Homo sapiens: one gene and its partner. The protein of the gene in region 1 interacts with the protein of each later gene in a pairwise test. Each region holds a gene or a part of one and is shown on either strand. Other genes may lie near its edges.

Region 1 (3,658 bases):
GCATTTATGCAGCTGGAGGCCAGGAATCTTCCCTCTGGCTTTGCACTACAGTAAAGATATTTACTTATTTTTTTAACAAAGTTTTATTTTAGGCTCAGGAGAATACATGTGCATGTTTCTTCTATAGGTAAACTCGTGTCATGGCGGTTTGTTGTACAGATTATTTTGTCACCCAGGTACTAAGCCTAGTACCCAATAGTTACTTTTTTTCCTGCTCCTCTCCCTCTTCCCACCCTCCGCCCTTAAGTAGGCCCCAGTGTCTGTTCCTCTCTTCGTGTCCATGTGTTCTCATCATTTAGCTCCCACTTGTAAGTGAGAACATGTGGTATTTGGTCATAAAATATATTTATAAGCATCATTTTCTGCTAAAATCCAGACAAAGAATCCAAAATTGAAGCTACTTACTCTATAGCTCTATGCCAATTATTCTAGCAAAATTCATATTCTAATGTCAAGAACTCCTTAGGCAATATATAAGATGGAATTACCCTTTCGGTGAGCAGGTGAGGCAATTCCTCTTCAGCAACACACTCCTCTGGAATCTTCAGCATGATGAAGAATGTTTTGTTTGATGATAATTCAAGTATTTCATTTTCATCTTCATCAACATAAGTTACTAAAGAAAGTAGGGGAGGTGGAAATGAAAAACAAAAGTAAACACCTGCATATAATAATAAACTTATTTATTCCATTGACTGCCATACTTAAACATAACTATGAGCATCAAGGGTAAAGGCTGAACACAGCAAGCAAGTGTAAGCAGAAATGCTTTCTCCACTCAGCAAAATTGAGTAAAATACAGGGGTTTGCCTCTATCAAAATAAAAAGTTTGTTTTATGGCAAAGGGGTCTCAGATTCCACTGAATACAGACTGGGGAAAGGGCCCAAGGGAGTAGGAAGAATATGAACTTCCTTATTAGACTAAACCTGCAGCTTAGCTAGGTACACAGGTGTCAAGGCAGGTACTGGGAGACGGTGGGGGTGGCTAAACTACACTCAGAGCCCCAGGGTGTGCAGGAATTGTTCAGGTCAATGAATTAGCATGTATTAGGGTCAAGGTATATTTATAGACTCAGATTCCGAAATCATTTACATTTTATAAATGGGAAAACAGACCCAGAGGGTTGACGAGTTTGCCTAAAACAATGAGTGATGAAGGACAGGAAGTGGGAGCAAGTAACTGCATTGACTCACCTCCCAATTCTGTGCTGGCAAAGACCACCATGAAGAAGTGACATCATCGACTCAAACAACAGAGGTGACTAGAAAATGAGCATGCGAGTCCATGTCTTGAAGTCTCCCCAGGAAGACAGAGGATGAGCATGAAGTCATCACTCTAGACTATGTCTCACAGGACAGGTATGTTGACATGCTCTGCTTGCAGAAGGGAAGCTAAACTATATTCAGAGCCCCAGGGTGTGCAGGAATTACATTCCTGGGACAATTAGTTATGTATTGCTGCTTGTGTTTAATGACTGCCATCTAATTGATTTTTAAGTAGTTGGAACTAAAGGAAAATCACACAAAGTGAGGAGCCAGGCGCCAGAAGCTAGCACTACTGTGCTAATTATGCTCCCCTGGCTCCACAACAGCCTCACCAGCTGGTCCCACACAGGAGACTACCTCTCTGGCCCTGAGAAAGGCGTAGGTGGGAGGAACCAGGTGCTTATATTGCCATAGACTTTAAGACCATAGTGGAATAAATTCAGTGTTTGAGATGGAAGGACAGGTAAAAAGGAGGAAGATTCCTGGTATTCCGGTTACTTATTCTGTGATGACATCTGGAAATACGAGGCATTACGAGCAAGGAATGTGCAGAAAAGAGTTAATATAGCAGGCCTGAGATTGCTAGCATAAGAAAGGCCTCCTCAAAATTGGTCCTGGCTGGTGTCTGAGAACCTGGATTTTCCCCTGATGAGAGGGGCTCACTGTGCCTCAACTGTTTGTACAATGTGGCTAACATCTCCTTTCCTTCTGGGAGTCTGGATTTTTAGTGCATAGTAGGCAGAGGCTACGTATATGACCAAGCCCCAGTGAAAACCCCGGGTACTGAATCTCCAATAAGCTTCCCTAGTAGATGAGATCTCACATGTGTTGTCACAGCCTATCGCTGGAGGAATTAAACAAGTCTGGTGCAACTCCACTGAGAGAGGACACTTGAAAGCTTGCTCCTGGTTTTCTCTGGATTTTGCTGTAATTAATCATTTGATGTAATGTATCCTTTTGCTGTAATAGATCATAGTGATCAGTAGGACTGCATGCTGAGTCCTGTGTATCCTCCTAGCAAATTGTTGAATCTAGGAGTAATCTTGGGGACCCCCAAACGTAGGGAATTATCCCTGCGTCCTTAATTGTTATAAGTCATGACATTATGTTGTATGATTTAAAAAAAAAGTTACGCCTTCATAGCAAAAAATTTTGCAAAGTGCAGGAAATTGTAACAAAGCAAAGAAAAAAATACGAATAATCTTGCAATCAAGAGGGTTTTTTCCTCCTATACTTGATATTATATATTTAAGGTCCTAACAAATAGGTAATTTATATCCTGCTTTTTGTTGTTTGCTGCCATTATTGCTTACTTATCCTGATTGTTCTGTTGTAAACATATCAAAAGCCATTTCCCATGTGCTTAAAATTCCTTGCAAAGATTATTTCAATGGCTTCATAATGTTCATAATAGGCTCACCTATTTTCTTAAATATGACATTTATCATTTTTAGCTTTCTACTTCTATAAATAATATTTCAATGGGTATCTTTGAGCTCTATACCCACCATGTAGATTTCCATAATAGATATCAATGCCTCAGAAAACAATAGGGGATGCCAAGAGGATAGATACAAGGTTCAAATAACTGCTAAACTCAAGGACACTGAGAAGAGATGCCAAGTGTGAAAACAGGCCTCCCATAATAGCTCTGACACATATTTAATGTGTATCATTCAAATCATGAATCTGTACCAAGACCTATCTAAATAGTTGTGTGTGTCAAAATAATAACAATAGTAACAACGACAGGCTTACTCAGTCAGGAGAGTTTTTATGTCACTAATGAGATAATCTGGGCTATACTTATTCGTGTAGAAAAAACATATTTTTAAAAATCACAAAAACATGTGTTGTATGTTGAAGGAACATGAAAACAGTTCTTTGGCTAGAATATAAGAAATTAAGCTAGAGAGAGAGCCCTTAAACGCCAGATACCTTCAAGGGGTAATGGAGTGTTGTTAAACATCGCCCACGAAGAAAGTAGAGGCTGGTGTTTAATGGAGGTTAATCGGGTGGTCATGGATGGGATAAATGAAACGAGGAGAGATGAGGCAGAGAGGCCAACAGGCACAAGTTTGGAACAGACTGATTTGACTGACAGCAGAAGGAACAAAAAGAAAAAATTAATGAGAAAGCCCAGGATAGTAGAAACAGAGCTGGCTTTAAAGGCAGCCAGACTCAGTCTGAACTCCTGTTGGCTATTTGTTAGCCAGGTGACCTTGAGCAAGTCACTTAAATCTCTGAAGCTACTTCTCCAACAGAAATATCAACACCTACAATGTAGGTGATAGTAAAGATGAAAACCAACATGCATAAAGTATCCTGCATGGTGCCTTGTAGTAAGTGGGAAAGTTGCTATCAAGACACTACCAAGGAATAACTGGTAAGA
Region 2 (3,658 bases), on another chromosome or scaffold:
GAATCTCAGCCAATACCCATAGCAGCTTTTGGCTGTCCCATAATTCTAGGTTTGAACACAATAAAGACTCGGCGGTATGACAGTTTCTTAGTCCCTTGATTCTATGCCTTAGAAATAAAAAAAATGTAAAATTGGAAGGTGCAAACAACTGAGATAAAGGGGCAGAGTGGAAAGAAGTGGGAGTGTCATAAACCAAAGCTGCAGGTAATGCCATGGCATTGTCTTCCTGATCTGCCTCCTGTTAACCCTACTGCTCCTTCCCTTCCCTTCAATAGTCACGGGCTGTCATTTTCCTGCTCTTTCATCTCTCATGCTAATTACTGAGACACTGCGACATGCATCCTGATTTATCCTCCTTGTTAACATGCTCAGGCCTGTGGAGGGGGTTGGAGGAACCTCACATGCATGAACAGGGAAAGTTGTAAACAGCTTAAGATAATTTAAAATGTTACCTTTTGGATAGGTTGGTTTAAGCCAGAAAATAGGAAGGTCACCGCAGAGTTCTAACACCTTAGAACTCAAGAAGCTGTTGTCCTTCACAGGCTGATCTACAGCCACCCAGATAAGAGAATTTTCTTCATATTTGACTGGCATGATCTTGCCTTCCTGAAAGTAAAAACGATTGCATTTGAGCAAAGAGGACAGTGAAACAAATTGTATTAAGAGTCATGTGTTGCTAAAAGGTTATTTTGCCTTATAAAAAATTAATGAGAATTCCGAGCATGCGTGTGTACATGTGTGCACTTTAAGGTTCTAATCTCTTCTCTTTGTAGCTCTTTTCACAATATTCAGCACGCCTCCTCCTGTTGCCCTGCCTCTGGATAGCTGTACCATGTGAATATAAGTGCCCTGAGTTGAAGTGAAAATTACTTGATACCAACTTTGAGATTTAGGTTAATCTGATGTTTTTGATCAAAGATGTTTTTGAGGAAAAGCAATTGAACGAACCCTGGAATCCTACAAAGGATAGAGGAACCCTTCATTTGAAGTGAAAATCTTGTGGGGTTTTGTTCTGCAGCTTCTGAACAACAATGGAAAAAGCAAGTGATTGGTTCTTTAATGTCTTCAGTTCAAAGTATTATTTAACATAAACCATTTCTCCACTTCCCAGCTATAACAACACATATTTCAGATGTTCCTCACATCAAGCACACCACTGAGATTTCAAAGTTAAACCCTGGATTTTCTTCCACAGTGAGATGCTGAGAATGGTTTGATAACCCAGGAGACAAATTTATCCTGCCAGGTTGTTCCTTTCGTGTACTTATTAGTCTGCAATAGCTTGGAGAAATTAAAATGTTTTCTCCTAATTTTTAGCTAAAAGCAGTACTTCATTTATGCTTTCTCCCTCAGGCTTATGGCTGCATTAAAACAACTTAAAGTTATTGGAGGAAGCTAACAGTCAGGTAATCCAGTTATTTACCTTAAATTAAATGGCTCCATCCAGGAAATGAATGCTCTTTGAGTACTGTAGCTTTTTAAAGTTATACAAAACTGATGAAAAATTTATGAAAGCAAGTGGTACATAAATCTACCCCATCTTAGTCTAAAGTGTGTGGGGAAGAGTGGGGTGATTGGGATAATGCATATAGATGCATCCTCCATGCTAAGAATGTTAAATAAATCTTGAGGCATGTACTTTTGGTTGCCTACCCAATCTCCTTCCTCCCCCACCTGCCTTGTAACATAGTCCTTCTTTTATTGGAAGCAGCAATGAGCCCAGCCCCAGGAGAGACACTTGCTTTCTCTAGTTCTCCTGCAGTCCAGGGTGCCCGGGTGACCCAGTGGTAGCCAGTGAGATCCAGGCCAAAGTATGCTGAGGGCTTGGGAGGCCTTCTGCTTTTCCTGATTAAAGGGAAGTCGTGGTTGGCATTGCTCAATGTCTTTCTTCCTGACATTTTTACTTGAATGCCAACTAAGGAAGTCAGGAAGAGGTTGAGCAGTGGCAACCATGATTGGAGCTGAAAGGCAAGATTTTAAAAAATCACAGAAATGCTGGCCACCGAGCCAATGCCTGCAGCCACCTGCCTCCACATTGCTTACTGTGGAGAAAAACAGATCCCGATTTGTGTAAGTTACTCTAAGGGTAGTTTTCTGTTACTGACAGCCAAACATATTCCTAATTCACACAAATGTATTGTCTGAATTTGTTTTTGTCCACTAGAGGATCCATCATGCATGACATAAACAACTAAAACACAGGACAAATAATCTACCTCTATGGCCTAAGAATCAGATGCAGACAAAGATTTAAATATAAAAGCATTCACCATCACGGCGAATTTATTTACCATGGTAAATAATGGTATTTAAAAATAGTTATTTTTAATTATTATTTGAAATAATGAAAAATTGAAGATACCTGAAGTGTTTAAGAATAAAAGACTTTTAAAATTATAATCATATGATAAAGCATATGTCCATTATAATCTACATTTTAGAAGAACTAAAGTTATGACAATAATAAGCATGTACAACAGGATAATTTCCCTTATAGAAAGACTATCACACACACACACACACGGAGAAAATTCACCAAAACATTAGCATTAGCTTTTTGTGGATTATGCAATTGTAGGTAATTTTATTATCTATACTTTTTTTCCCTAAGATGTCCCAGTATTGAACCATTTGTACATCCCTGAAATAAACCTTACCTTGTCATGACATGTTACTTATTCAACATATGGCTATACTCCTTTTACTAATATTTTAGTCAAGATTCTTACACCTATTTTCTTTTTTTATTTTTAATTTTTGTGGATCTATAGTAGGTATATACTTATGGGTTACCTAAGATATTTTGATACCAGCATGCAATGCATAATTACCACATCAGGGTAATTACTGCAAGCATTTATTCTTTGTTTCAAACAATCCAGTTATACTGTTAGTTTTTTTAAAAATGTATAATTGTTTTTTACTACAGTCTCCCTGCTGTGCTAGCAAATACTAGGTCTTATTTAGTTTTTCTATTTTTTATTCTTTATAACTAATTTTTGTACCCATTACCATCCTCCCTTCCCCCAAACCGTTCCAGCCTCTGGTAATCATCCTTCTATTCTCTATCTCCATGAGTTCAACTGTTTTAATTTTTTTAAATTATACTTTAAATTCTGGGATACATGTGCAGAATGTGCAGGTTTGTTACATAGGTATACACATGCCATGGTGGTTTGCTGCATGCATCAACTCGTCATCTACATTAGATATTTCTCTTAATGCTATTCTTCCCCTAGCACTCCCACTCCCTGACAGGCCCCGGTGTGTGATGTTCCCCTCCCTGTGTCCATGTGTTCTCATTGTTCAGCTCCTACTTGTGAGTGAGAACATGCAGTGTCTGGTTTTCTGTTCCTGTGTTACTTTGCTGAGAATGATGGTTTCCAGCTTCATCCGTGTCCCTGCAAAGGACATGAACTCATCATTTTTATGGCTGCATAGTATTCTATGGTGTACATGTGCCACATTTTCTTTATCCAGTCTATCATTGATGGGCATTTGGGTTGGTTCCAAGTCTTTGCTATTGTGAATAGTGCTGCAATAAGCATACATATGCATGTGTCTTTATAGTAGAATGATTTATAATCCTTTAGGTATATACCCAGTGATGGGATTGCTGGGTCAAATGATATTTCTGGTTCTAGATCCTTGAGGAATC

What was found.
Region 2: the proteins of C3orf52 (region 1) and CNMD interact in binary tests that used the Homo sapiens proteins (3 or more experiments, as listed by UniProt).

The regions. Positions count from the first base shown.
Region 1 is NC_000003.12:112,099,796-112,103,453, reverse strand, and holds part of C3orf52 (TPA-induced transmembrane protein), read right to left. Parts: intron 617-3,658; coding exon 489-616; intron 1-488. UniProt on the Homo sapiens protein: Has a role in LIPH-mediated synthesis of 2-acyl lysophosphatidic acid (LPA). LPA is a bioactive lipid mediator involved in different biological processes, and necessary to promote hair formation and growth.
Region 2 is NC_000013.11:52,712,264-52,715,921, forward strand, and holds part of CNMD (leukocyte cell-derived chemotaxin 1 isoform 1 precursor), read right to left. Parts: intron 607-3,658; coding exon 453-606; intron 1-452. UniProt on the Homo sapiens protein: Bifunctional growth regulator that stimulates the growth of cultured chondrocytes in the presence of basic fibroblast growth factor (FGF) but inhibits the growth of cultured vascular endothelial cells.